Linked DNA regions of Homo sapiens: all the other regions are linked to region 5. The links come from fine-mapping of genetic effects on gene expression. A gene starts in region 5. Each other region holds a variant in brackets. All regions are shown on one strand. Distances are between the middles of the regions. Region 1 overlaps VLDLR (very low density lipoprotein receptor). Region 2 holds the start of LOC101930053 (a long non-coding RNA gene). Region 3 overlaps LOC101930053 (a long non-coding RNA gene). Region 4 overlaps VLDLR (very low density lipoprotein receptor). Region 5 holds the start of VLDLR (very low density lipoprotein receptor).

Evidence for each region. PIP is the estimated chance that this variant, and not a neighbour inherited with it, causes the effect.
Region 1: its variant is fine-mapped to the expression of VLDLR in whole blood (INTERVAL, PIP 0.99).
Region 2: its variant is fine-mapped to the expression of VLDLR in lung (GTEx, PIP above 0.99).
Region 3: its variant is fine-mapped to the expression of VLDLR in esophagus muscle (GTEx, PIP 0.90).
Region 4: its variant is fine-mapped to the expression of VLDLR in whole blood (INTERVAL, PIP 0.97).

Annotation. Positions count from the first base shown.
Region 1 is chr9:2,651,917-2,658,069 of GRCh38, reverse strand. It overlaps VLDLR (very low density lipoprotein receptor), which reads right to left. Exons shown (of 19, transcript NM_003383.5): 17 at 6,116-6,153; 18 at 5,121-5,290; 19 at 1-4,237. The coding sequence ends at 4,202. LOC105375957 (a long non-coding RNA gene) reads left to right here. Exons shown (of 3, transcript XR_929436.3): 3 at 5,060-6,153. Among named protein-coding and RNA genes, the nearest start is that of VLDLR-AS1, 33 kb to the right of the region's middle. The variant G/A (reference allele first, on the strand shown) is at 3,453.
Region 2 is chr9:2,490,545-2,496,041 of GRCh38, reverse strand. It overlaps LOC101930053 (a long non-coding RNA gene), which reads left to right and starts at 1,821. Exons shown (of 6, transcript XR_001746603.2): 1 at 1,821-1,862; 2 at 2,617-2,967. The variant A/C (reference allele first, on the strand shown) is at 2,661.
Region 3 is chr9:2,483,507-2,489,659 of GRCh38, reverse strand. All of the region lies in intron 2 of LOC101930053 (a long non-coding RNA gene), which reads left to right. Among named protein-coding and RNA genes, the nearest start is that of VLDLR, 140 kb to the left of the region's middle. The variant G/C (reference allele first, on the strand shown) is at 2,758.
Region 4 is chr9:2,642,046-2,648,198 of GRCh38, reverse strand. VLDLR (very low density lipoprotein receptor) reads right to left here. Exons shown (of 19, transcript NM_003383.5): 5 at 4,668-5,039; 6 at 4,449-4,571; 7 at 4,240-4,362; 8 at 3,346-3,465; 9 at 3,117-3,242; 10 at 2,454-2,625; 11 at 1,647-1,865; 12 at 607-725. Among named protein-coding and RNA genes, the nearest start is that of VLDLR-AS1, 23 kb to the right of the region's middle. RefSeq lists silencers at 2,366-2,425, 2,436-2,485. The variant G/C (reference allele first, on the strand shown) is at 2,998.
Region 5 is chr9:2,618,749-2,624,901 of GRCh38, reverse strand. It overlaps VLDLR (very low density lipoprotein receptor), which reads right to left and starts at 3,115. Exons shown (of 19, transcript NM_003383.5): 1 at 2,631-3,115. The coding sequence starts at 2,712. VLDLR-AS1 (VLDLR antisense RNA 1) reads left to right here and starts at 2,529. Exons shown (of 4, transcript NR_015375.2): 1 at 2,529-2,802. RefSeq lists silencers at 1,981-2,070, 2,081-2,170, 2,441-2,710, 3,321-3,400 and an enhancer at 3,279-3,573.

The sequences.
Region 1 (6,153 bases), 33 kb before region 5:
ACGCCATTGTTCCCTCTTCAGATTCATTCCCTCCATATTTGGAAATAAGTACCTTTGAAGATTTTTGTACTTTTATATATTTCTGAACTCTCATAGTTTAGGCCCATGATATGGCTGAAGCATGGATGTACAATTTTTAGTTTTCCCAAGAAAAATCATACTTGTTAGGATATTTACTCGAGTAGTTTTTTAGTATTACAATTCTAGAAGAGAAGTCATTATAAGCCCCTTCTGGCCTTAGAGACTATATAATACCAAAAATACCTAAAAACCTTTTCTTTAAGAGAGTGAAATCGCTTGATGTGCCCTCCCACTCCGGTTAGATGCTTAACAGACGACAGCAGACAATGCACCTCAACCAGGGCTAAGTGTGCACACTTGGCCAGCAGCCGCCAACAGAACGGGCAGCAGCAGCAGTTAGCACTGACGCAACTATCGCTGCTATTGCCACTACCATCTCCCCACTAACAGGGCTTGCAGAATATGTAATACCCAGGGGATTATATATATGTGGTTTTTAGGCACCGCCTCATCACCCACAATAAGGGAAGCTTCTTTCTACTCTTTAGCTAGTTGCTGCTCCTACTTGTTAGGAGTTTGATGTATCAGACCCTTTTGAGAAATGTCTATGTCACAACTACGTTCAGGATAAAACAATTATGAAACTGAAGGGCTCAGATTTGGGGATCAAGATTAGCAGGTTGTATTCATAGTACTTCAACTTAAATTAGCAAAAGTATATCTGCTTTTTGCAAGTTTTTGCCACCATTGAAAGCAAACAGTATAGCTTTCATTTGGATTCAAAATAATAAATTGTTTTACTTGGGTAAGATTTCACTAGTAAGAATTCTAGGAAATTATTCCAGTTAGATTACGTAATAGAGATAAGTGACCCCTAGAATCTTTAGGTTTGGGGTAAAGATTGTTAAAAGGTAGACTTTAAGTTGGTCTACCATTTCTACAGTGTTCTTAACTGAAGAGTTAGTCTTTTAATACCCTGTAGTTTGCTATTTAAAGCTTGGCTTCTCATTTTTGAGAAGGGCTACTTGACTTCCACAGATACAAGGAACAGAAGCAAATGCCAAAGTGAAAGCCTCAATTTTTTTTTTTTTTTTTTTTTTTTTTTTGCCTTGTATTCATCAAGAACTAAAGAGGCAGCGATACCTAGGCTTTAAAACACCTACTAGAATGTTTTAAGGGAGCTAGTTGAACAACTGGGACTATTTTTTTGCCAAATAGATTAGCTTGCAAAGGGCACTTAAAAATTTGGACAGAGGAACTTGGCTGGATTTCTTTACCAGAGGCCACAAATCTGTTTATTCATCTATCATCAATCTTTGTGGCAATTCCTAAAATTTCTGGAGGGTCCACTTTCACTTTGTGTGACAGGCTCATCTAACTCCAAATATTCTCCTTTAGTGTATGATAAGCTTCATATTTTACCTCTTAATTATCTTCTACATTGAACTCTAGAGACAGAGCAAACTTATCCTAACACATTTCACATAGAATTCAAGTTATTTTTTGGGTGATAAAGCCGAGGCCTGTTATCATTCATGCACTATTATTGCAAGCTGTATTGACTAGTAGTTTAGTCATATAACTATTTTTTTCTTTTATTTTTATAAATTTTTTTTTTGTAGAGACAGGGTCTCACCATGTTGCTCAGGCTGGTCTCGAACTCCTGGCCTCAAGTGATCCTCCTGCCTTGGCCTTCCAAAGTGCTGGGATTATAGGCGTGAGCCACCATGCCTGGCCCACCAATATATCTATTCTTATTTCAATAGGAATATCTAGTTACTTTGTTTCTACAAATGAGTTTGTACCTCGTAGGTACAATGAGTTGTACCTTGGCTTCTTACTGGGGAGGACGTGGTAAAAAAAAATGAGACGTTTTAGACTCTTTGAGGGTTGGAAATTTTACCCAGAACATGAAAGAACATACTAGGGACAGGAATTCAAAAGATGATGATAGAGAATAATACTTTATTTGCCAAAACAAACTTTGGGCCTTATAATTAATTAATACTGTATAATCCTTATAATGGGGAAAGCAATAGTATCAAACTTCAAGCTTCTAAAGGGAATTTGGTATTACTCCAGTTAAAAAAAAAAAAATCCATGTTTTTTGTACCACAGCAGGGTCAGAGCAGCAGCCAAACTCTGAAATGGCTTTCAGAGTTCATGATGAATGCTAACCTACTTACCAAACAGGCACTTCAGCTACTCACTGTCAGCAGGCCACATCCTGTTCAGTGTGATGACTAAATGTAGAGTGAGGAAAAGGTGGAGAGCAGACAGTTCTATATTCATGACTACAGCCTTTTCCTTCTACATGCTTGACCTCCAAACCTCCCATGAAAAAAAAGTCCAAGGCTATCTTTTCTTTTTCATTCAGTTGACCAAAATCACAAGGGGGCATCCCTTAAGACAACAGAACCAACTTCCCCTTCATCTAGTAGGATTAATGTCCTTGCTTAAGCCACAAACAAGATGTTAACTGCCTTATATTTCATATGCAAGTGAAATATGAGTCATCCACTGATTCACGTAGCAACGCAAAACATCTTCTCTTCATCCTCTTGGTACTGTGTTGGTCGGTCATTTAATTCCAGAGGAATTGCTGTACCTTCCACAGCCAACTCTCCACCTCACTTGTGACACACAGCATGCACCCGGTGCTTCAAGTCTTTTGTCTTTCCTTGCTTCCAGACATCCTGAGACTTTAGAGAAAGAAAGTAATGGCCAACCTGATGGAAAATTCACTAAACTCCCTGTACAATTTTTTCTTTGTCTCAAACTCCTCATCTGCTCTTCATACTGTAAGTTCCAGAAATTGTCCATAGTAAGAATCTGCCCCATCCCAGCCAGGATAAAAATTTAGGTGATATTGCAATTATATTCTTCATGAAGTCACAGTAAAACGGTGGTTTTTAAGCTTTAGTTTACATCAGTATCGCCTGAAGGGCTTATGAAAGCAGGTTTCAGCCCTCGCCCCCAGAGTTTCTGATTCAGTAGGTCTGGGATGGGGCTGGGAACTTGCATTTCTAATACATTCCCAGGTGATGCAGATGCTTCTGTTCTCAGGACCACACTGAGAAACCTGCCTTAGACTGTTCAAGAATGCCATTGCTTGCTATCCTCCCTGGCCATCTTCACAGTAAGACAGTCTAGACTTTCATAAGAAGAAAGCCCTTATCCATGCCTTAGAAGGCACTTGTCCTTGACCTATATAAATGACAGAACATGGAAAACAGAGACTTAACTATAAAGAAGCAGAATTCATAGAAATCTTAGCACGTGTTTCTCGATCAGGAAACAAGTTAATGGAAAAAAAAGAAACTCACTCCTCTAACCAAGAGGAATTCTAGGTACAGACTAAGCTAGCTTCTTTTACACAGTAAGAAATATTTCGGGAGCAAATGTTAAACAGTACTTCATTTTTTAACTGT[G/A]CTAGGGTGTAAGAGAAACCAGCCCAATTACAGGCTTAGTTATACAACATCAAGAACTACAGCTCACACATTTAGTTAGAACACTTGGTACTACTCAGGATAGGAGTTCATCCTAGAGGAACAGGCACAAACCATGGTTAAGCTGCTTGGTTTAATTTTTTAGCACTTGAAAAAAAATGTACAGTAGTTTGAACACTCAGTCTTTGCAAACCTCCATTGAGGTCAAAGATATCATTCATACGTACAAAATTAGTTTATAAATTTTTTTGGCAATTTCATCTTAGTAACCCGTTTTGTCCTATTGCCATTGTCCCAACCATTGAAAAAGTTTACAATAATTTACATAGAAATATTTTCAAAGTGCTTAAGAATAGTGATTGTTCTCTGGGATATTTACAGATGGCCTATACAATGTATGTACAGGTGGTATACACTATAGCACAAGTTTCACTGCTGGAATATGGCTTTCTAGGGAAAGTGCATATTTGGCCAGAGGTGGCAATACTGTCTAGAAATTCAAGGGTTACAGATACTCGGTAACCACATCCAAAGCTGAAGTAGAATGTGGACAAGAATATTTACAAAAGTAATATAAAAACGGTCAAGTACACAAGCTTGATCCACGCAAAGGTATCTTGATGTTCTTCCAGCCGAGAGGAAGAAAAAGAGACTTCAGCTGCTGGCTCGGTTACCATTCCGACGGGGGTATTATTTGTTTAGACCTCAAAGGTCAACATTTGTCACAGAAGTCAAGCTAGATCATCATCTGTGCTTACAACTGATATCTGTGGAAAAGAAGAAGTATAGAATGAGCTTGGTGATCACTCACTGATGGCAACTCTAGTCTTTAAAATGGACCTTGCTTTTGAGTTGGTCATTCAAACACTCAGAGTGCTTAGAAGAAAAGTCAGTCAGATACAAAAGAATACTGAGTTGTATCATTCATGCATTTAACTTGAATTCAACTATACCTGCTTGGTAGTGAGATAAGATAGTGTGACTAATTCTGTCTTTTCTACTTAATGATCATAAGTCTTGGGGAAAAATGTGAAAAGCCATGTGTGTGTCAAGAATTGACCACTGTTCCATGTTTCACCGGAGTTTGAGAGGGGAGTGATCAATACTTGTTTTGTTCAGCCTGTTTCCTACGTGAAGGCCAAATACTCCACTTGGGTTTCATCTGAAGAACAAGTGAGTGACTATTGCTGGAAGAAAAGCTAGCTATACTAAGGGCGGTGGGATACCTTTTTAAAGCAAAGCATATAATAATTTTGGCTAAGTGAATCTTACTCAATACACTGACTTTAAGCCAACTCCCCTATATATGATATGCTAATTTACTTTCAAATATCCAGTAGGCAATGGATTTAATAGTTCAGTAATGAGCTACTTGGTTCATGCTAGTATTTACATGTCATTTCTATAACCAAAAATATCTTAATATAGTGGTGACTTTAAGTTGACCCACTTGTCAGTTGGTGAGGGTTAGATGCTGATCAACTGAGTGACTTATGTTCTAACAGGCTATACTGTCTGTCTAATAGCCAGGTAGCAGATGAAGTGTTTGGTAACTCCATCATCCTAATGGCTCTCTCTCTCTCACCCAGGTCTCCTTTCTGAAAAGTCTCACTTCAAGCCATGGTGTATAAAGACACAAAGCTGACTTACTGCTGGGTACGTGTGTCCAACAGAAGCACTGTGTCTACCAATGTCTATGGAGAGGTCCTCTTCAGTGGTTTTCAAGTACACAGGATTGTCAAAGTTCATGCTTTTCATGTTCTTGTGTTGCCAATTCCGCCACATCAAGTAGCCACCTACTGCTGCCATCACTAAGAGCACTGAAAAAAATCAGAGGGTAGCTAAGTGAGCTAAGTCTAGTATTGGAACATACAAGAAAGGTAATAACGTTCAGGAATCCATAATAATTGACATTAGTAAAAATGCCATGTTTTATGGAGCTAGGATAACTAGAAGTTGGAATACACATGGGCCAGGAGCTTGAAACAAGTTCAGCCCAGAGGTAGCTCTGTGCACTGGAGCTGGACTAGCCACATCCATCCAGGCAAGGGCAGGGTCCTCGGTCCCACCTTAGGCTCACCAAATTAAAATTGCAGAAGGTTCTGGAGAGCTATTCAGGTGGTCCTGGCGTGTTAGCTAAGCTTGGGTCTCTTCATTTAGGACAAAGGTTTTTATAGCAAAGTCCTTAGAATTTGCGTGTCTCGTTTAGAGGTCCTTTTCCATAGGTTTGAAAATTCTTAACTGCTTTTAATTTATCCTCAACAAGTCCTGTAACTCTTAGCATTTAAGCATTTGTGCATCTCCTCTGTATGAAGCATTACACACATTTCAAAGGGGGAACAGAACAGTACACTAGTTAAAGAGACTTATTATAAAAGGGGATAAGCCAGGTTAACAGTGCGGAAGTAGAAAGCATTAACCGTTGAACACTTATCATTGCCAGTTACTGTGCCAAAGGTACAACTGAAGAGAAAGATATGGGCCTTAATTTAGTGTATTATGTGGGGGAGAAAGCGAACGTAATTCAGTGTCATAAATGCTAGACAGCATAAAGGCCCATGAAAGGGGTAGCTCCAGATGAACAAAAAATCTTCATCTGGTATCTAAGAAGTTCTTGAACCCAGACTTGTAGGAAATCTACTTACAGAGAGGAAGAATGGCCCATGCGGCAGAAGTCCCTTTT
Region 2 (5,497 bases), 130 kb after region 5:
ATGGATCCATCATTCTCAGCTGCAGCTCCTACACTCTCCAGGAGACTAGCTTCCCTTGGAATGGGGTCAGCCCTGCTCTGGAGGGACTGGGAGAGCATTCAGCTAGCACACAAATGCTACAGGACCACGCTCCAGTTGCCCCCTCAAGTTATGACTGCCCCTGTTGACATTGTCTAGTGCTTGAGAGTCCCCTGTGTAGAGACCCTGCAGAGAGGCAGGAAGCCTGCAAGGGCCCTGGGCTGGTCATACCTGACATCAGTTTCAAGTGATACTTATCAGTGAAGCAGTCACATGAGATCACAGGGCTAGAAGATCCCTCAAAGGTCACAATGTCCTGCATTCCTTGTATGTCTGGCTTAACCCAGAGCAAAAGTGTCAGAATGCTACCACCCCAACATCTAACAGGTTGCCTGTGAAATGGGATATCCACTCACCTCTGGTAGACAATCCAGTTTTCTTTTCTCTAACACTTGAACTTGCTGGCCATTGGAACCACTATAATTATAATAGATGTTAGATTTCTTGTGTGAGTGATGGGATGTGAGGAACGTGATTGTTCCACTTAGAAGAGTAAGGTTGCCTAGAAGTACCCAACCTGCCATTTAGAAATCCTGGGTTTGGTTTTCCTACACCCCGAACACAAAACCACAAAATACCAAAGTTGGAGGCAACCTTAGTGATTAATATCCCTCCTCTTACAGATGAAAAAAAAAAAAGGAACATGACCTGACCAAGGTTAATAATAATACTGCAAAGGAAGGCTCTTTGGGATTCACATGGCCCTGTCATAGGTGTTTATAGAATTTGGTTGTAATGTGCCCTCTGACTTATAGGACGAAGAAAAAAAATCCTTGCATGTCAACAATATGTGCCATCAAAGTTCTCCATGCCTCTGTCTGGTTTGATTCTCACCATCCTATGTAGTGGGCATTATTTTTTCTCATTTTACACACAAGGAAAACAAGGCCCGGAAAGGTTAAGTCCATTCAGTTAGTAAGTGGCAATCCTGAGCTCAGGCTTCAATCTTCTGCCTTTTATTCAATATCATTTCCAAGTCCATCTCCACTTTGATTCTCTGGGGATTGAGGGTATAGTGGAAATTAGCCATAACTTGGGTAGGGCAAGATATATAGGAGCTCTAAAAGTCTCTACCCTATTCTGGATGCAGATACTGTGGGTTGCTAGAAATTCTAAAGAAAGGATTCTGAGTTTTAGTGACTCACCTTCATTGGCATGTAAATACTTCCCTCTTAGAACCACTGTAGCTGGAGCAAGGGCCTCATGGCTGCTAACATAATTTGGTGCTGTCATCTCAGCAGCTGCCTTTCCTTATCTTAAATACCACCTCCCAGGATAGTGTGGCACTGAAAAGCTCAAGCTGTTAGAATCTGCTGGCTACTCCAATTCCTGGTTCTGTCGCTTTAGATGACCTGAGCGATATTATTTAAATTTCCTGCATCTCAGTGTTTCCATCTATAAAAGGGAGCTAGTTATAGTACCTTCCTGAGAAGGTAAAGACTAAACGAGGTAAAAAACTTAGGAGAGTAAAGTGCTCAATAAATACTAGCTGCTGCTGCATTTGCTCTTGAGACAACCGAAGGAATTCTGTCACAGAGCTGAGTTTTCACCAGGAGTACAAAAGGAATATGTTCATAGTTCATGGACTCGGTGGGCATGCCAGGGTGACAGGTATCCAAAAGACAGAATCACATACAGTTTACTTCTTTTTTTTTTTTCAGACGGAGTTTCACTGTTGTTGCCCAGGCTGGAGTGCAGTGGCGTGATTTCAGCTCACGGCTACCTCTGCCTCCCGGGTTCAAGCAATTCTCCTGCCTCAGCCTCCCAAGTAGCTGGGATTACAGGTATGCACCACCATGCCCGGCTAATTTTGTATTTTTTAGTAGAGATGGGGTTTCTCCATGCTGGTCAGGCTGGTCTCAAATTCCCGACTTCAGGTGATCCGCCCGACTTGACCTCCCAAAGTGCTGGGATTACAGGTGTGAGCCACCGCACCTGGCCCAGTTTACTTAACTCCGGGGAATGATTGCTCGGACCTTATACAACAAGGGTTATCTTCATTTTCTGCCAGTATCACCCCTCTGCCCCCACCCCCCTCAACAAAGCAGAAGGCTTTAACTCACCCACCTGAAAAGCTAAAGCTGAGCTGGAAGTTATGATTATGTATTTATTTAGTCTGAAAGAAGGAACAGAAGAGCCTTTTATATAACTTGAAGAGTGTAAAGGAGCCAATGATAAAAAACATTGCCCTGAACTTTTCCAAAGCACCATAAATCTCTCTGTTATGATTCTCCAGTTGTTGCCAAGGTATCATTTGTCTTTTTGTTTTTGTCTTCAGATAGACGAAAACAAACGTTAACGAACTTCCTTCTGTTAGTTTGTGTATCTGTGATCCAAGGCTATAAAAATGCTACTCTTTCAAGTTACTCCCATCATTTAAAATACACCTGATGCTTATTTTGTGGTTTCTCAGTAATATTCTGATTTTAATTTGATTGCTTTTTATGTTTGTGTATTTTCCCATTCAAAGCTGTTTTTTCTCCCTTCCCTCCCTTTTGTGTTTCTCTCTGTCTCTGCTGATATTTTTTGCATGTTTAGATCATCTCTCTACTGACCTTTTAGTGGCTTAGCATTTTGTTGCA[A/C]TGCACAAGTGAAGTTGGGAAACAGAGCCAAGTGACAAGCTGTGAAGTAACAGCTCAGCCTTCACAAAGCAAATGTGCTTTGTGCACTTCCTTGCCAGAGCAGATGTGGCCTTGGTGGACTGTGGGGAGCATCATCTCTCAGGTAAAAATAAATTACTAAGATTAGGACCAAATGATGCAAATCCTTTCATTTGCAAACAGATCATGAACTGGCAGCCATGTGGAAAGAAGACTAGACTGCGAATCACTTAGGATCCCACCCTCGGTTTAGTCTAGAATACTCTGCGAATCAGCTTTTTGGCCCTAGGTGAGTGATTTTAAAAGACATTAAATGTGCAAATGCATAAAATGAACTCACGTAGTTCATGGACACAGGTGACATAGGAAGTTAATCAACAAAAAAATAGAATGAAATAACAAAACTCTGTGTCCCAACACCCAGTCTGAGGCAATCCTAACATTTTGATGGGTTTGATTCAGACATAGTTGAAGTTCTTTGCAGACTTCTTAATCCCATTTCCCTTTCTTCCATCCAGAGATAAACACTATCTTGCAGGTACATGCTTTCAGACCTTTTCTGCATGCACATGCACCTTTCCACAATATGTACTGTCATTTTGCATTTTTTTAAAATTAAAATAAATGGAAGCACACCACACATATTCTACCATTTGTTTGTTATCTAATTTAGCATAAGATCTCAACGATTTAGCTCTAGTTCATTCATTTGAACTGCTTTGTTTCATGAACAGACCACTATATATTTATCTGTTCTTCTGTTGATGAACACTTAGATTGCTTTTAATTTTACACAATTATAAACAATGCTTCAGTGAGTGTTCTTGTACATTTCCTTCTCCTAACATACAAAAGCTTCTCTACAATAGCATTTTTCAAAATGTTTTGTCCACACAGCTACATGGAAACCCAGCACATACATGTGCTACATTTATGTACATGTATGCATATATGGAACAAAAGTTTCTCAGAATAATATTTATCTTTATTTTCTACTTAATTCTAATTCTATTTATTTTATTTTATTTTATTTTATTTTATTTTATTTTATTTTATTTTGAGACAGAGTCTTGCTCTGTCGCCCAGGCTAGAATGCTGTGGTGCGATCTCAGCTGACTGCAACCTCTGCCTCTCAGGTTCAAACCATTCTCCTACCTCAGCCTCCTGAGTAGCTGGGATTACAGACACATGCCACCATGCCCGGCTGATTTTTGTATTTTTAGTAGAGACAGGGTTTCACCATGTTGGCCAGGTTGGTCTTGAACTCCTGACCATAAGTGATCCGCCCACCTTGGCTTCCCAAAGTGTTGGGATTACAGGTGTGAGCCACTGCTCCTGGCCTACTTATTTATTTATTTTTGAGATAGTGTCTTGCTGTGTCACCCAGGCTGGTGTGCAGTGGTGCAATCATGGCTCACTGAAGCCTCGATCTCCAAGCTTCAAGTGATCCTCCCACCACAGCCTCCTGAGTAGCTGGGACTACCAGTGTGTGCCACCACGCACAGCTAATTTTTTTTTTTTTTTTTTTTTTTTTTTTTTTTAATTTATGGGATTTCACCACATTGCCCATGCTGGTCTCAAACTCCTGGGCTCAAGCAATCCACACGCCTCAGCCTTCCAAAAGGCTGGGATTACAGGTGTGAGCCACCACACTTAACCTCTAATTCAGTTTAACCTGGACTATTTCATACACCATTTTAATTTAGGAAAGGGTTTTATGACCCAGTGATGCATCTTCACTGACAAGTTGAAGAACAGTTCTGGGATACATACATAGACATGGACCTGCTGGATCATAGGTTGTTCCCATTTTCAAACTGATAAGTTTGTCTACGTGAGTTCATTTTATGAATTTAAATGGATATTTGTATTTAGCTAGCATTCCATGTATTTCTAGAAGGAGGCTTTCCAGGTTATTTAGTTTGCTGGAAATGGAAGTCCTGTGTTAAACGTTCTGGGTTTCAATTTTTTATCTGTCACAAGAAACCACACACACAAAAGGTAGTAGACCCTTCCGTATTTTGTAGGGTCCTTTCTCTGCAGCCCTGGGGAGAGTTATGGGGGTCTGCCACAGTGTGGGTAAGTTGTGGGGTAGAGGTAGACACAGGGAACGGGAGAGAATGAGTAGATGGAGTTCTGGGTCTTTTACCACAGTCCCTACCCAAGGAGCTCCATTTTAATATTGATCCATTCTGTATCCATTAGATTGAATTGGCAAAAGGGTTGTGTAGCTTAAAAGTATTCTTAAATGGTGGGTTTAGATGTCTTCCAAGGCTCTTTCCAGATCTAAACAAATGGAAGTAATTTTTAAGTCTCTGGACCATTTAAAATTGCAGCCAGAATTAAAGATGGCTTATGGTATAAAGTTTCGTGAGTAGGGGCTAGGCAAACAGTGTTTGTTTATCTGAGTGTCAATGTTCTCTTCCTGCCACGTAGAACCTGGCTTGGATGGGATGCTTTTGGCATCCTTGAAGGCAAGGAGTTAGGTGCGCCCTCGGGCTGGAGTTGCCCCTTTGAGGGCAGCCATTTCTGTGCCGTCGTATTGCCTTCATGGCAGGAAGCTGCTTTAAAAAACTACTTTGTTTTCATTGTGTTTGTTTAATTCTGTGAATAAGGCTCTAATATAAATTTTTCTGAAATCCATTTCAGCCCAGCACACTGTTCCACATGCTTATGATAAAGCTCATTTGCTCAGCAGGGTACTCGGTTAAACCTTTATATTCATAGGGATGACATTTTATTATCATTTTAATGAAAATATTTGCTTCCTCCTGGGTTTATTTTTGCCTTCCCAATATAGGAAAAGCATTAAAAAAAAA
Region 3 (6,153 bases), 140 kb after region 5:
AGCTTGTTTTCAACTTTTGGTTTATTGTGGTGGGTGAGTGTACATGTAATTAATATTATTTACTTTGTTTTTCTCTATTTCAAAAAGTTCTGGCTCTTTCACTTAGTAGCTGTATAATTTGGGGAATGTTTTGTCTTTCATAAATGGATATAATAATGGTATATGGTATGTAGGGTCATTGTGAGGGCTAAATGAGATAATATATTTAAAAAGCATAGAACATCATTCAAGAAAAAATATCTGTCATTTCTGTCATCATAATTATCCTAAGTATGCATAAGCTGCTCTTCGTTTGAGCAGGTGCTAAATAAAATTCTACCTTCTCTCAAAGTACCTTCAGGTCAGTTAAGTTCAGCAAGCATTTCATGAATGCTCCATATATGTAAGGCACTGAAGATACACTGATGATATCACACATGTGACATTGACTAGCCCTTAAGCAGCATACTTTCTAGAAGGGAAGGCAAACCCAGAAACTGATTATTTCAGTATAAGGCTGTACTGTCCAACATAGTCATCAGCAGCCACATGTGTCTACTGAGCACTGAGAATGTGATTAGTTTGAATTGAGATGTGCTCTTTGTGTAAAACACACACTTGATTTTAACAAGTTATTATTGATAAAATAATGTAAAATATCTAATTAATTGTTTTAACATGGTGTCAATTACCCGTCAAAATGATAATTAGATCAGTTAGATATCGAGTTATATAAAATATACAATTAAACTGAGACGGAAGAATGGCATGAACCCAGGAGGTGGAGCTTGCAGTGAGCCGAGATCGCGCCACTACACTCCAGCCTCGGCGACAGAGCGAGACTCCGTCTCAAAAAAAAAAAAAAAAAAAAAAAAAAAAAAAAAAATATATATATATATATATATATATATATGTGCACAATTAAAATTAATTTCACCTGTTTCTTTAGATTTTTTTTAAAAATGTGGCTACTGGACATTTTAAATTTATGTGGCTCCTGTTATATATCCTTCCTTTTTTATTTTGAGACGGAGTTTTACTCTTTTGCTCAGGCTAGAGTGCTGTGGCGCGATCTTGGCTCACTCCAACCTCTGCCTCCCAGGTTCAAGTGATTCTCCTGCCTTAGCCTCCTGAGTAGTTGGGACTACAGGCACACATCATCATGCCTGCATAATGTTTTTGTATTTATGGTAGAGATGGGGTTTCACCATGTTGTTCAGGCTGGTCTCAAACTCCTGACCTCAAATGTTCTGCCCACCTCGGCCTCCCAAAGTGCCGGGATTACTGAGCCCAGTGGCTCCTGTTCTATTTCTATTGAACAGAACTGGTCTTATGTGACACAGTGGAGGTTAAAACAGGGTACAGGGGGAACTCAGAGAAGCAGCAGGTCATGCAGCCTGTCCTCCTCCCCGGGAGAGCAGGTGAAGCCTGTGCTGAGTGTTAAAGGATGAGCAGAAGTTGTCCAGGCAGAGCCAGGTCTAAAGGGCCCTCCAGATGAAGGTAACAGGAAAGGCATGAAAGACATGGTATTTCTAGGCACTGGAAGCATTTGGTTCTTCATAAAGCATTATGAATTAGGGACTGGCAGAAGATGAAGCTGCAAGAGAAGTGAAGCCTGGTCTTGCAATTCTTTAACATCTAGCTACCATTAAATGCTCTGGTCCTTGACTTATACATGACGTCTGGTTATTTTTCCACTATTTATTTCTTTGACGTTTTGGACTATCAGCTGCCGACAGTTGGAGGTTTACATCTACGAGGATAGACTTTCTTAGAGGATAGGACTGATGTATGCACACTTGCTGGTTGGCAGGCAAAATGTCATTTTTCCTCTGTAGATAATCCTAAAGAGTAGATGGGCAGCCTACAGTTGCTGCCAGGAGGTGAGTAAGAATGATGAATGAGAATCATAGGAAGGTGGGAGCCCTTCACACGGTCTGAATCATTGGGCCCAAGGAGACTGTACGTGGCTGCATTCACATCCATTTACCTGTCAATGGATTTCAGTGGAATCCCTCTCCTCCCAAATTCTCACTAATAAGCAATGTAGTCATTCATCAGATTACATTAGTTTGGAAGCTCATTATTCTATTCCAAACCACCCACAGGTCTTCTGCCTTTAATGAATTATGTATTCAGTGGGGATTTGGTAGGTCATGTAAGATTAGGTGAAAGAGGGGTAGCAACAGGAGAACCCAAGAACCCAAGTGGATGGAGAGGCTACAGTTAGAAGACCTCTTCCACATCTGCTTTTCACTCTTTAATGTGCATATAAGTCATGTTCTTTAGAAATGTAGATTCTGATGAATTAGATGTAAGGATGGGGCAACAATCTGCATTTCTATCAAGTTCCCAGGTGATGTCAGTGCTGCCAGTCATGGACTGCACTTTGAGTTGCCAGGTCTTAGAGACCTGGTGTCTACTACAGTCTCTTACCAAGGCTGGAATCTATATTGCAACAGCCCTAATGAGTCATTAGAAGCCCCTGCTGGAAGACCTCTGTTGTGTTTCACCTCCTCTGCCTTTGTGGAGTGAGTCTTATTGTTGGAACAGTTTGTCTTGTCCCTAGAAGCTATCTGGGCAATTTCTGTACATTGGTTCTTGTTCTATTTTTAGAACTGCTAAGAATAAGTCTAACACCTCTTTCTCTTGACAGTCATTTGGAAATTTGAAGAAAATTTTTTATATTACTCTTAACCCTTCTTTTCAGTGGATTAAATCTACTCATCAACTTAGCTGTTAAACACAGAACTCCCTGGCATTTCCCAGGAATCATGT[G/C]CCTTAAGTGCCCCTCTTCTAATTGAGCACAATGTTCCAAGCTTTCTCCAAACATGAAAGAATAAAATGGGCTTGTTACTTATCTAGCTATTGATTCCCTACTTCTGCCAGAGAATCCTCAAGCATCTTGGTTGTTTGGCAGCTACATTAAACCTCAGATTCAGAATGAAATTGGTTGATAAGAAAAAAGCCCAGTTTTTTTCTCACTGGTTGCCATAGACTCATCTAGCATTGTGGAGATGATTTTTTTTTTAAAGAAGCTGTGATTTTTTTTATTATGAAATATTTAGAAATTTAGAAATTATGAGCAAGCAAAATTACCATTCTTAATGTGTTGAAATATAAAAATCAATTTTTTTCTAGGCATAGGGATGATTGATTGCATTGATTATTGATTACATTTTATAAGGGCCTTGAACAATCTTTTGTGAACATGTTTCGAACAACATCATTTTTATTAGCTAGATGATATTTAATCACATTGAAATTTTTGCAATTTATTCAACCAGTTTCCTATTATTGGACATTCATGTTGTCTCTGATTGTTTTTTGTTATTAATCAGTGCGTTTGTAAACACCAGGTACCTAAATTTTATATACATTTTTGAAAATGGTAGGTTCCTATAAGTAAAATTACTGTGTTAAAAGACAGGATAATTAAGGTTTTTGAGCTTATTATTATAATCAGTCATATTGTCCTTTAGGAAAGTTTTAATAATAGAATGCATTATCACTAACAGTAATTTCACAGGACCAATCTGCACCCACATTCATTAAAAAACGCCTTTGACACTTTGATGAACAAAAACAAATGGAGTTCCATTGTTTTATTTCGCATTTTAATAACTAGTAAGATTGAACATTTTAAAATTTGTCTTTTGCCATTTAAATTTCTTCTTTGAGGGAATAAACTTTTCTATCAGAACATTTTTATTTTTCTTAATGATTTGTAATAGTTATTTAAGTGCAAAGGCTATTAATCCCGAATAATTTTCCCAATGCATGATTTTCTTTTTAGTTTTTTATTTCATTATGACTGGAATGTGTTCTGGATTGTGTCTCCTATCAGATTATTATTTTTTAAACATTGTTTTGTTTTTAATTTTTGTGAGTACATAGTAGATGTATATATTTTTGAGGTACATGAGATATTTTGGTACAGGCATGCAATGTGTCAAAATCACATCACGGAGGCTTGAGTATCCATCCCCTCAAGCATTTATCCTTTGTGTTACAAACAACCCAATTATACTCTTTAAGTTATTTTAAAATGTACAGTTAAATTATTATTGACTACAGTCCCCCTGTTGTGCTATCAAATACTAGGTTTTATTCATTCTTTCTAACTACTTTTTCTGGTACCCATTAACGATGCCCACCTTGCCCCAGCTCCCGCACTACCCTTCCCAGTCTCTGATTAACCATCCTTCTATTCTCCATCTCCATGAATTTAATTGCTTTGATTTTGAGATTCCACTACTAGATTATTCTTGATTTTAGGAAAGTTATATATTTTTGTGTAATAAATTAGTACAAAAGTACTTGCTCTTTCTGCCATAATGGCAAAAGCACAAAAGTAATTTGGTTTCTGCCACAATGAGAAAAACACAAACGGAATTACTTTTGCACCAATCTAATATGTATTACCTAACGGTGAGCTTGCTAAACATTCATATTCATGTAAATAGTTTTTAAATCTAATATTTGAATCCCATCTTTTTTTTTTTTTTTTTTTTTGAGGTGGAGTCTTACTCTGTTGCCCAGGCTGGAGTGCAGTGGTACGATCTCAGCTCGCTGAAAGCTCTGCCTCCCAGGTTCGTGCCGTTCTCCTGCCTCAGCCTCCCGAGTAGCTGGGGCTACGGGCACCCGCCACCACGCCCTGCTAATTTTTTTTTGTATTTTTAGTAGAGACAGGATTTCACTGTGTTAGCCAGGATGCTCTCGATCTCCTGACCTCGTGATTCACCCGCCTCGGCCTCCCAAAGTTCTGGGATTACAGGCGTGAGCCCCTGCGCCCAGCCCATCCTTTTTTCTTGTCTTGTTGCATTAGTTAGCAATTCCAGAACAATGCTGAATAATAGTGGTTATAATGGGCATCTTGATTTGTTCCTGAGTTTAATAAGAATAGCTTAGTGTTTTATTATTAAGCATGATACTGGCTTTTTGGTTTAGTTATCAAAGTAAATACATATTTGTTAAAGAAATGTCCATTTATTCTGACATTTTCACAATTTAAAAAATCAACAGTAGATGCTGAATTTTATTTAAAAAAATCTTTCAGCATCTGTTTATGTGAATGTGATGTTTCTCTGTCTCTTTCTATCTCTCAACCATTTTAAACTTAGAGGAAAGTTGTGAGTACAGTACAAAAAAACCTGTTTTTTTCTGAACAATTTGACAGTATGTTTTAAGATTTCATAGAGACTAGAAGTAGATTAGTGTTGCCTATAGATTAGGGGGTGTTGGGAGAGGAACTAGAGAGTGATGGCCATTGGGTGTGGGAATTCTTTTTGGAGGGATGAGAATATTCTAAAATTAGATGGTGTGGATTCCTGCATATCTCTGCAAATATGTCAATAAATTTTAAATTGTATACTTCGAAAGGGTGACTTTTCTGCGACTTAAGTTTTATTTCAATAAATCTGTTATTCAAAAATAAGAATTGTATATTGCATTTAGTTGTCATATGTCTCCTTCAATATGAAGCAATTGTTCACCCTTTTCTTAACTTTATCGGCCTTGACACTTAAGAATTACATGCCCGTTGTTGTATAAATGGATCTTCAATTTCTGTTTGTCTAATGTTTCCTCATTATTAGATTCAGGTTCTGCATTTTGGCCCAAATATCACAGGATGGATACAGTGTTCTTCTCATTGTATCTTACCAAATGGTTTATGATTTAGATTTATCCCATTACTGGTGATATTCAATTTGCTTGCTTAAGATGTTATCTGTCACGTTTCTGTCCCATAAAGTTAATTTTTCCCCTTTGAAATCATTTTGTTTTGTGGAAAGTTACTTTGAGTTTGTATAAATGTCCCACTTTTCTTCAAAAATTTGTTCATTTATATTGGTATGAATTCATACTTTCATATTTAATTTGTCAAGTTATGATCCATTATTGAAATTATCTATTTTAGTGTTCAAATTATCCTAGATTAGGCCAGTGGGAGCACCTTCAAACTGGTTTCTGTGTCCTTGTGGTATGTCCCCTTCATTCTTTGAGCACTTCCTTATTTTCTGGTAAAAGAAGATGCTCCTCCGGGTTTATCTTGTACTCCGCTTACCCCGGCCCTAGAATCATCTATTTTTTCCAAAAAGCCCTGGTCTTTTCAATAGAGATGATATTTAGAAACGACAATTTAATGTCTAAGGTACGCTCACTGTTCTTTAG
Region 4 (6,153 bases), 23 kb before region 5:
AAAAGAATTGTCATTACATGACAAGCCACTACTACTCTGGCTTCCATTAAAAATATCTAATGAATTAATAATCTACTTTCACGGTTCTTTCCCCAGCAGGGTTTCTTAACGGGGTCACCATAAACCTTGCGAAGCAGCATGCAGAGCCTGTATCCACGTTCATTTTTGGGGACTAACAGGGTACCTGAGATTCTCAAAGCAAATGACTTAAGAAATATTACTCACATTACAGAAAATATTAAAAGAGGCTACCATTTTGTTGTTCTCCTCCAAAAAGCCAGAAGAAAACTGTTAAAAGCCTGCAATTCAGGAAATGCTAAGGCACTCATGCCCAGAATATTTAGTATGAGTGCACCCAAGACCCAACGTTCACTGAATTTGTGTCACATATTAGGCCCAGCTGGACAACAGGCCAGTAATTATGGAATGTGTAATTTGTTAATCCACCATTTTACTTGTGTTGTTCAGTTACTCCCATTGAAAATTCCTGCTAGAATTTAGGCGGAAGCAGTAGAGTCATCTGCTAGTCCAGAATTCACCATGGAGATAAATGGAAACACTATGAAGATAGTTGAGTGGGTGGTCGAGAAGGAAGAACATACATACCAAGTGTAATTCCGTTAGGCCACTGGATATCCGCTGTCACCAGTGGACGTCTATCGAATCCATTCATTCCTGCTTTTTCTATTTTAGCTGGTTCACCCCAGTCTGACCAGTAAACAAAGCTGTGAAAAATTAAATGAGAAATAAGCCTCAGTGGTTTAGAAGGAATAAAGTTGTAGTAGCTGGAAACAAAAATTTAAAATTTGAGCAGAAAACTCAAGGCATTCTCTAGTGACAAATAGTAACACTTAAGGGTCTAAATTATGTTCTAGGTAAATAAAATTGAATATTAAGAATCTACAAGCTCATTATTAACTATAATAATCTATGTTTGTCTGACATTTAAATTTCGGCCCAAAGTCACAAGGTTATGTTTCCTTTTTAAAAGGTCAGTTCTTACAGAGGAGTGCAAGACGAACATCCTTCAAATTTCATAGCAGGGGTTGGCTGGCTGACTGAGTTCTAATGAGGCTGCACGGGGGCCAGTTGTGATGACAACTACAGCCTTAGTCAACTTCCTGAGCTGCTCTTCTATGTTACTTAGTGGCAATTTACAGAACCCCCTTAGTGAAATGTTTCTAGAAAGGTCTGTTTATTTCTGCTGGACTTTCAGACAACTTGCACACTTAGATGCAATGTGGTTACCCAAATCCTCACAATTCAGGCTGTCGTTTAGGTTTGATCATCCAGAGCTAGCCCAGCAAAGCTTTCAGTCAAAAATTAAAAAATCACTTGCGTAGAAACTGGGTGGACAAAAGGGTTCAGATACAGCTTTTGGTACACACATCAAATCAGGAATGTTAATTCATTAATGTCAGCCAGCAATCAGTCATACGAGAGTCAGACAGGAGGACCTGTCATATAGATAAGGACATCCCAGGGTCACTCACCTGGGGCAAAACTGATATCTTAAATTAGAATTCTAATTCTTTGTTGCAGAAGGCTCATAAACCTTGAGATTTGAGTACTAATTCAGGTATGAGAAAGCTCCTGACCTACACAGATACCATTCCAAAGTCTGTGATGGAAAACAGACTACAAACCCAGACAGTGGGTCCACAGCTATGGAGGCAGGCTCTCGCAAGTCAGAGTTAAACAGGAACTTCCTCTTGGTTCCATCTAGGGTAGCTACTGAAATAGTCTTAGAAGCCGCATCAGTCCAGTAGATGGTCTTGTACACCCAATCAACAGCAATGGCTGCAGGATTATAGACATTGTCGATCATTTTAACATGTCTACCAACCTTGTCATCAATTGAGGCACTGAAACAGAATAGGTCACAAGAAATTTAAGAGTTTGACACAATTAGAGCTTGGAGAATGGACTTTTTGCTTACAAAATGGTCAATGACTTTGTTCAGAAAGAAATCCAGTTAACACCACAGCTCACCACTCAAATTATTTAACCATGCTGCTTACTGATCCTAAATTAATAATGCTGTAGATTATCTAGTTGCTGGTATGTATTCTATATACAAGAACAACAAATTTCTAAGTGAAGCTATTTGTTTCAGTATCCATCATCTGAGTTTCTATAGTTCCCATTAAGAAAAGGCTGTACTACCATTTCTATTTGTAGCAACAATGAACAGTTCTCAATTAACTGTAGAGAAAAGGGAGAAAATATAAAAAATATGAAAGATGTCATCTTTTACTTCATAGACAATTGTTAGTTTCTAATTAGGAAGTGATAACAGTTTAATAAAGAATTAGCATTAGATTTAATGTCCCCAGGTAATTCGATGCTAGATGGGGCTAGACACAAAAGAAACTCCTCCAAACTATCCCACAGATCACTTCCCAAGTGACAATGACTTATGTCAAGACACCACAAAAGGAACTGAAAGTTACCTGAAGATAGCCTTTTGGCTTAGATCGGCCCAGAATAGTTTCTGGGCAGCAATGTCAGCATCGAGAGCCACAGTGTTTCTTAGCTGTTCAACTAGTTGGATATATTCTTTCCTCTCTAAGCCAATCTTCCTGATGTCTCTTCGATTAGTGAAGATCAGACTTGGCTCTTTGCCTGCAAGATGGAAGTCTGGGTTACTTAGTTTTGCTTTAAGAAGGCAAGGTCTTTCTAAACCACCTCCTCCCAGCAGAGGAGCACTTAGAAAATAAAGGTATTGTGGAATACCTCAGTAGTATCTGTTCTGGAGTTCCTGCCCCTGGGACCTGCAAGTGCTTCCTACAGTTTAGGAAGGCAGTCGTGGGGTTACAGCCTTCAAGAACAGGGTGAGTGATGAATAAGTCACTTGTTTGAGTTGGACTCAAGTTTTGGAAACAGAGCATGCAAACCTGGTAGGTATTCATGGTATCATATGCAAAAGGAATGATCAAGGTACATATCTAGGGGAGAGATCTGCTATTTGACCTATACTGCTGTATTATGAGGTTA[G/C]CAGCATTGTTCTCAAGTACAATTTCATGTTTAGTTTGACTATTGTAGTCACTGGCTGTACCTTTTAGAGGCACTTACTCATAAAGGTACAACAGCCATACCAGTCCAAGTTCATTTACCTACTGCCTTGCACACGCCAGTAGCAAGATCCATTTGATAGCCACGACTACATTCACACTTGTAACCGCCTTTTAAGTTGATACAAATTTGACTGCAGATTCCTGGATTTTGGCATTCATCAATATCTGGGAGGGAAATCAGAATTAGTCTTGCTGCTCCTATACCTTACTAGGTACATACTATCCTTTCCCATCACCTGCAGGGTCCAGGTTTTCTTCTTAGACTCACCTCCACAGGTTTTCCTATCTATCAGTTCAAACCCAGCTGCACAGTCACACTCGTAGCCTATAACTAGGTCTTTGCAGATATGAGAACATCCACCATTATTTACCAAGCATTCGTTTATATCTGGAATAAAAATGTAGTAGTCACTTGACAACTTATTTTCAATTAATATCTTTCACATTTAAAACCCAGGCTATTTGTGATAACTTATCTAGTTGGCCTGGTCAAACCCACGATTTGTCTAAGACCTAATCATTTATTTTATAGGTATATATTTCAGGGTGGATTATCTAACTCCTCGGCAAGTTACCAGCTGGTCAAGCATTTAGTCAAGTTTCTCTATTGATGATCAGTTATCTTTAAGGAGGTTAAACTATAAACTAGTTTGGGCCGGGCGCGGTGGCTCATGCCTGTAATCCCAGCACTTTGGAAGGCCGAGGCGGGTGGATCACGAGGTCAGGAGTTCGAGACCAGCCTGGCCAACATGGTGAAACCCTGTCTCTACTAAAAATACAAAAAAAAAAAAAAAAATTAGCCGGGCGTGGTGGTGGGCGCCTATAGTCCCAGCTACTCAGGAGGCTGAGGCAGAAGAACTGCTTGAACCCGGGAGGCAGAGGTTGCAGTGAGCCGAGATTGCATCATTGCACTCCAGCCTGGGCAACAAGAGTGGAACTCCATCTCAAAAAAAAAAAAAAAAAAAAAACAACAAAAACAAAAACTATAAACTAGTTTGTCCTACCTGGGCTTTTAAGTCATAAAGTTTCACTCTGAAGTCTACAATTGAACTTCAGTACATTCAAAAGTTTAACTAGCCATCACGGGGGGTCCACACAGTGTTAGCTATACTGGATTGTGTCAAACTTCCAGGATCTGTACTTGAACAACAAGTACACTTACGACACTCTTTCAGGGGCTCATCACTCCAGTCCCTGCAGTCCTGCTCCTGGTTACATACTTTGCTGATATCTATGCATTCTCCACTTCTGCACTTGAATTTTCCAGGGCCCAAGCACTGATTGACTACAAAGAGAAACAAAGAAGAGAGATTCCATGAGTGGGTCTGGTCAGAGCAATCCATTGCTTAACCAACAAGAAGAAACCCTTACCATTTTTGCAGTTGACTTCATCGGAACCATCGACACAGTCTCGGATACCATTACACTGCCTGCTGCCATGGATGCAGCTGCCATCCTCACATTCAAATTGGTCAGGTCGGCAAGTTCGAGAGGCTACAAAGGGAGGAAACACCATGGAATGAAGCCAGCAAATTGTCCCAGTTGATACAGGGAAGAGAACTGAACATGCCATGCTAGAAAGCTACTTACGACAGTTGACCTCATCACTGCCATCCTTGCAGTCAGGGTCCCCATCACATCGCCACTTCTTATGGATGCACTCGCCAGAGCCGCACTGGATTTCGCTGGCTGGACACTTGGTGTGTATGACTGGCTGACGGCCACACTGCTCCAGGGACTCATCAGATTGGTCGGAGCAGTCTGCATCATCGTCGCATACCCAGCTGATGGGGATGCAGGAGGAGGTGCTGCACTGGAACTCATGGGCGCCACAGGTTGGCGGGGCACAGTCCAGCTCATCACTGCCATCGCTGCAGTCATCCTGGCCATTGCATACAAAGTTCCTGGAGATGCAGCGGCCACTGGAGCAGGTGAACTCGTCGGGACTACATGTTATATTGCCTATTAAGAGAGAGGATGCCCCACTGAAAATGCATCAAGATTGGTCCGTTCAAGATTCTTGTCCCAAAATCTAATACATTGATCTTTATTCATTAATCCTAACTTACTAGCCCAACTTAAAGGCTACAATGGAGTTAAATCAAGAACTTTTGTACAGTCTCATTGTACAAAAAATGAAGGCACACAATAAATAAGAAGAACAGAAATAAAGAACCAAGAAAATAGTTGAAGACTGGAAATTAATTTGAGATGAGAACCACAATTGATTCTAAAAGTGGCCATCATAAATAACAAACTGTAACAAGGGATTTCAATTTGGAAGGCAGAGATTGAGTTGTCCTTGAATCAACATACTGCTTGTCAGATCTTATCACTAGTTGAGAATATCATGCAACGTAATACTCACAACAAGCATTAAGACTTTGTCACCAAAAGAGGTGAACCACATACCACCATATATGGTTCCTCTTTTTGGTCCTTTAAATAAGGATCAGGAATAACAAGTCTTAAACACTTTCCATTTTGAAAAAGTCACTGCCAGGGCTATAATCACCATTTAACAATCAGGTATGCTGACAATGATAAGCTAGTCCTACTAGCCAATTGGTACTTTGACTTAAATTCCTGCCAAATGTTTCAAGGTCACAATTTGGTGGCAATTAGAATAGAGACCACGACTCTCTTGGGAAGCAAAGTCTAGATTTATAAGGGAAACACTTGGCAGCACCAGGGCTTACCAATACAGAAAACCCAATTCTAGGATTGAACACTAAAACTCATTGGACTAGGTGCAGTGGTATTGACCTCAGGAGGCGACTTCTACACACAAGACTGGTGTTTCAACTGTAAGTGCCCTGAGCTCCCTTGACTACTACCATATCAGGAGGCCCATGCTTGTCAGACTTGGGAGCTGTAGGTTTTAGAGGCCCTATAAAAAGGGCAGTAGCTTGAAAGAACATTCAAAGCACTGTTTGTTCAACCTAGTGATTTTCCCAGGCCCTCACCTTCAACATGCAGCATTTTATTAAAGATTTTCCAAGACCAGAAACATGAAAGAATAGGAAGCAGAGTTAGCTTTCAGAGACAGGAACTGCAACAGGAGACAAAGGTATCA
Region 5 (6,153 bases):
GGGTGATCCAGGGAACAAAGCTACACTGGATTTCATGAAGCTGTTACTGCCAAGGAGGGCTTGGCTGGTGACCTTCCTTTACGCAGTCCCTGCTCACATGAGTGATCAGTCTTTGATAAGGGGTACTATCATCGTCATACCTTCATTGGTGCTATCTGGATGAGCCAAGTTTACTTTCCATGCCAACCAGTTTCCTACCTCCAGGTCTATTACTACCACCAGTACCACCAACCCACTTCTCACAATGAGGGAATTTTCTTTCTATTCTTAGGCTAGTTGCTAGCCATATATGAATAGCTCTCAAAAAACCTTGGTTCTTTTAGACTCTGGCCTTAAAGAATATATCATACCACAGATCTTAATCTTGACTACTTAGGCTGAAGGAAAATGTCCCAGAACCCCCAGGAATTGTGCAATCAGGTATACCAACTTCTTGTTAGCCTTAAGTTCCTTGCCAGAGTCTCAGTGTTCACCTGTCTTGTCCAGGAGTATTGTGGAACAGCACCATGTGCCAGTGGACAGAAGGGGTATGTGTAGAAGCTCCAGGGTAGAAAGTCAGCCCACATGCCCTGAGACTTTGAACTTAAGACAGATGCCGGTTGGGATTGGTTTAGGGTCAATAACTGCCTCAGCCCAAATTTCCTCCAGTTCTGGAAGAATCTGCTTCCTCTCCTTTGAAGAATTTGTTTTTCCATTGTTCATGGCATGTCAAATATTTCACATGTGACAAAGTGAAAAGGATCCTCACCTGCCCAATACAAGGTGAACATCTGGCTTTGACTAACTCATGTCAGTAGTTTAGGTGCATTCCTAGCATTCTATAAGGTAAAGTTAACCTCTAGTGGAAGGGACATGCAGCAAAAACGAAACTTTTCTCTCACCTTCCTGGATAATTGTCCCTCCTTCTGGTATACCTTAGCGTTTTGAAATGTTACAAAAGGCATAATGCAAGTCATGGCACTATACTGAGAAATCGTTTAATAAGTTAGTATTACTCATCTATTAATGATTAATGCTAGCGTTTGGAAACTCTTGTAAGCAGAGCTTTTCTAGGCTCTCAGGCTTGTTACACATCAGATTCCATGTTCACTACACATTCGTCCTCTTCAAAGAGTCCAGGCAGGGGAAGGCATTTGAGAGAACAGCCCGTAAGAGCCTGTGGAGTCTCCTACTTTCCATTGAAAATAACACTGCCCATGCTGCCCACTTAAGAGTCCGCGGAACCATGTGACCAACCTAAACGTGATCGCACCGCTAACCAATCGCAGAGGGCGGAAAGGCCAGTCCCAGTTCACACGCTCCGGACAGTGGCAACCAAAGGGCAGGGGCATTCGGAGACGTAAAAACCCCAGGCGCTGCCCGACAGGCTCCTTGACCACATGCTTTAAAGTTCGCTCTCACTTCAGGAGCACGTGACTGCAGGCCGGCAGGGCCCCTGAAGCCACCCGGCGACGGGAGCCAGGGACTCTGGAACGGGTGTTAAGGGCCTGGGCGGCTTTCAGTCCCAATTCCCTGCAGCTGGCAAGCAAGCCCCTCGGCGTCACATCTGAAGATCACTTCGGGGACGCGCTAGGATTCCGACTGAGTCCTCTCAGAAAGGCTTCCTGTCGCCTGTCCAGGAAAGTTACGAGGCCCCAAGTGGGAACGTGGCTGACGACCAGGCGGGGCCCCCAGGCCCCCGCGGCAGAGTCTGGGGACCCGACAGTAGTCACCGCCGCCCTTCCCAACAAGACAGGGCCACACGCTCGCTCTCGCGCTGCTCCTTTGAGCTATTGTGTAGAATGAAGGCTAATTACAGTCACTAGCCTAGGACTCAATTCCTCTCGAGGAAACGTCACCGGGAAGGAGGGTCAGCAAACTAACCTGATTAAGTCTCCCCTCCACTCCCCCTCCGCGTTCAGCTACACGGGAGACCCGAGCGGTTTCCAAACGCCGCCCGAGGCGGGGAAAAGGGAGAGGAGAAGCGCCCAGAGCAGAGTCCTGCGTAAAGCCCCGCCGCTCCCCTACCCCGCACGCCGGAGAGGCGGCCCCGCGCCGGGGGAGTCGCAGTCCGGGTGCCCTCGGCTCCGCGGAGCCTCCCGGCCGCCGCCCACCGAACGTGCGCCAGCTCGCGGCCGCCGGAAGACTCTGAAGCCCGGCCGGCCCCTGGCGCTCCGCGTCCCCGGAGGCGCTCACCTTCTCCCCCCGTCCGCTCCCGCACTCCCCGGGGTTCGAGGGTGCGCCCGAGGCTGCCGCACACGTCTTGGCCCTCTGCCTCCTTCCCAACACTGCGCCTGGCAGAGGAGGCAGAACCATTGTTCAATGCTCAGAAGCCCACGCACCTCGGCGCCCGTCAAGAGGGCGAGAAACGAGGCGAAGCAGCGGCTCTGGGGGAGGCGGAGTGAGGGGCAGAAGACTAGTTCAGGCGAGGCGTCGGGGCACCCCGAACCCCGCTGTTCCCCAAGCCCGGCTCCCTTTAGCCTCGGCGCTGACAGCTCAGAGGCGCCACCACGGAGGGGAGGGAGGGAAGGCGAGGAGAACCGAGAGGCGCCTCCTAGGAGGCGGGTGGGCAAACGGAGACCTACGCCTCGGGGTCTCCCGGTGCCCCGGCTGGGTCCCGCCCGCCGGCGGAGGGGCGCGTCCTCACTCACCGGTTCCGGTGGCGCCGCTCTCCCGGGGCGCCCAGCACAGCGCGAGCAGCAGCCAGAGCGCCCAGAGCGCGGACGTGCCCATGGTGCCCGCCTGGATGGTGCCGCCGCCGCCGCCGCCGCCGCCGTTCGCTCCGCACGACAAGTTACCAGTCCTTCCGAAAGGAGGAAGAAGGTGGGGGCGGGGAGGGGAAAGGGGGAGAAGGAGGGGAAGGAGTTGGCGGGGGAAGGGAGCGGGGAAGAAGAGGGCACCCCCTCCCCTACAACTTGCACAGTCTCCTCCCCACCCACCCAGCCACCTCCCCGGGCTGCAGCAGCAGTGCAAGCCGAGCCTGCGGGCAGAAAATAATGCAGGCGCTGCAGAGGAGGGGAGGCAAGGGGAGAGGAGGGAAGGGAGAGGGGGTGGGGAGCCGAGAGCAGAAGAGAGCACAGAACGGAGAGGAGCCGGTAGCGGAGCACCCGCACCGGCGGCGGCCGGAGAGCGGGGTGAGCAGCGGGGAGGGGGCCGGAGGGGGCGTGGTCAACGGGAGGCGCGGCGGGCGGGCGGGAGCGCGGCGGCTTCGGCCCTCCTTTCCCTCGACGCGCTCCTCTTGCACGCGCCGGGCAGCCGGGTGCCCGCGCGGGGAGCGTGCGAGTGTGAGCGTGCGTGAGTGACCGCGGTCGTGGTCGTGGCTGCCGCCGCCGCCACCCGGACCGCTCTAGGGGCCCGGCTGCTCCGCGCGTTCGCCTGGGGCTCACGGGGGCCCGGGGCGACCGCTGGTTGGCTCGCGCGCCGCCCTCGCCTCCAATCCCGGGTGCCTGTCCTAATTTCCTGATCCAGGGAACCTGCCGCCGCAGCGGCTGTGCGCTCCCTACAGTCATTACTGTACCCTCCCGGCAGCCTCCGGCAGAACACGCAGCAGCAGCAGCAGTTAGCGCTGATGCAACTATCGTTGCTGTTGCCACCGCCTCCCCACTGACGGGGCGTGCACCTGGGGGGTACTTGCAGTTTCCAGGGGCAACAAGCATCTCTCTACCACCCTCTCCTGCGCCCCTGAGAGAGGCTGGTAGGTAGCATCTTCTTCGGGCCTCCTCTATCCACTCAGAAAGTGATGAAGCGGAGGGGCTCCAAACGTTTGGGCTGCTCAAAAGTGGGGTTTGGGATGCCGGTCTCAATCGCACGCTGAGATGCCGTTTTGCCGAAAACTAAATGTGTCTTTAAGTGAGAGAGTGTGTATGTTTGAAAGAGAGTGCGCGCGGTTGTGGCTGGTCCTCTGTAATAGAACAAGACTGAAATAACCCAGCCTGGGATGAGGAGAAGGGAAATTGCTAGCGCAGCTTTGCATTTGCTCATCAACGATTATAGTTAATTGCTAATTGCACAAAATGATAGTTTGAGGGCCTGTAATTAAAAGCTTAACCTTTTCTTGTTTGGAAGAGAGGGGCCCCATACGTTTATTCCTCTTGATATACTTTGTAACATTCAATTACAAGAATCGAGGAAAGAATAAAGGAAGCAAAGACAAGACTCCTAGAAAGGGTTGGTTCTTCTTTTGTGCCTGACAGTACCTGAGTCTATAATTTGCTTTTTGTGTACTTCAGTTTTCTTGCACACTTAGCCCTGGTTGAGGTGCATTGTCTGCTGTGGTCTGTTGAGCATCTAACCAGAGTGGGAGGGCACATCGAGCGATTTCACTTTCTTAAATAAAAGGTTTTTGGTATTTTGAAAAAGTTGTTTTTATCTTAATTCAAACTTGGAAGGTTTCAATAATATCATATTCTGACTCTATTCTGTTGGTGATCTGAAGAGCAGCGGGCACTGCCTCACTGTCTTCTCCTTGCCCTGGTTCTCCTGGAAATTTGTCAAGGCTAGCAATCAGAGGAGATGTTTATTAGGAACTTACTATATCCAGGAGACACACAGGAGAGGAAAATTCCAGTCAGGATAGGTTTCTGTGGGCCAAAGATATCCTGATTGTGACTGCTAAGCATGAAAGGGCTTAACTCTACGTATGGATGGTATCTTGCACTATAGCTCATTTTGAATGCTATTTTGCCCACCCTGTGGTTACATAGTTGATACAAACTGCAGCAGCCACACAGGTTGCATGTGAAACAACTGAAATTTGTTTGTATGACATTTAGTAGTGAAGATGCATGCCGGTGTTATTCACCTAATGGCATTGAGATGTGATAGGAAAACCTTAGTGCATGATGTCTTTCATATTCTCAGGGTTCTGAAATGCCATCTGATGAGCTACTGCTTTACAGAAGAGGAAAGGAGTAGAAGGGATGGGTGGAATCAATACAAAAAGAGGCAGCATTAATAAACAGTCATATGACTTGTTTTTAATACTTTACTCAGAGATACAGGTATACTACAAGCTATACATTGATATGGTATAATAAGACTTAACTTTGAAAAACGTGTGTGAGTACTTTCTAATTCTCCAAGGGATATAAATAAACTTTCAGTGAACTTAGCTGCAGCTCTGTATTCAATCCTGTAGCTTTTTTGTTGACTCAAAAGAAAGCATAACTTTTGGCTCCATCTCTGATTGACTGTGTAACTTGGGAAAAATCACTGTGCCTCTCTGTGTCTGCCTTTTGGCCTGTAAACTGAAAAGAAAGCCAAGCCACATTATATCAAAGTGCTCCGTGGCCTCAAGGACCAGCTCTCTGCAAGGTGTTGTTTATTAGAAGAAAAAGGTTGTATGGAGAAATTCATTGGATTATGATAGAAAGTAGCTAATAACTAAAAAGATAAATTGATGATAAGTGGATATTGAAGTGGTTGAACTAACAGAGCTAATTGATCATAAGTGGAGACTGAAATGGTTGAACTAACTGGGTTCAGAGAAGTTGACACTGCTGGATTCCCGACGCCGTCAGGTAAATGCAGAGGCAATCCCATTCACTCCTACAATCCACCACATTCATTTATTTGTTGAAGCAACACATAGTGAGCATCCCTGGCTAACGGGCACTGTGCAAAGTAGTGGGCATACAGAAGTGCTTATCTAGGAAGCTCAGCATCTGGTAGGGGAGGCAGGCAAGTGGGCAACTGTAGTACCCTATGTATAGCACTCTGATTAAGAGATGCTTAAAGTGCTAGAAGATTGCAAGGAAGAAGCAGCTATTCTGGCTGCAGGATGAAGGTATCAGAAAAGGCTTCACAGAGCGTTTGTCTCTGAGCTTTTTTCATAATTTTTACCCGGTGATCTGAATTCTCCCTACTTCTGGACACATGGTAGGATTGGACGTCCTGGCCCCCTTATGGTTGGATGGGGTCGAAAGACTAACTTTGGCTAATTATTTGTGAGCCTAAGTTACAGGGTGCCACTTTCAGACCGGAGCACTTAATTGCTTATGTGAAACCCTCTCTTTGTGTCTGCGTGGTGACAAGAAATGTTTAAGAGGTGGCTGCTGCATTAGCCCAGGTCTCCGAGTGATTCGATTCATTTAGAACTACCCATGTGAGTAGTTCCCTGCTGTCTATGTGTCTTTAGCACTGGTCACATAGAGTAGAGGTTAGCAAACTAGGGCT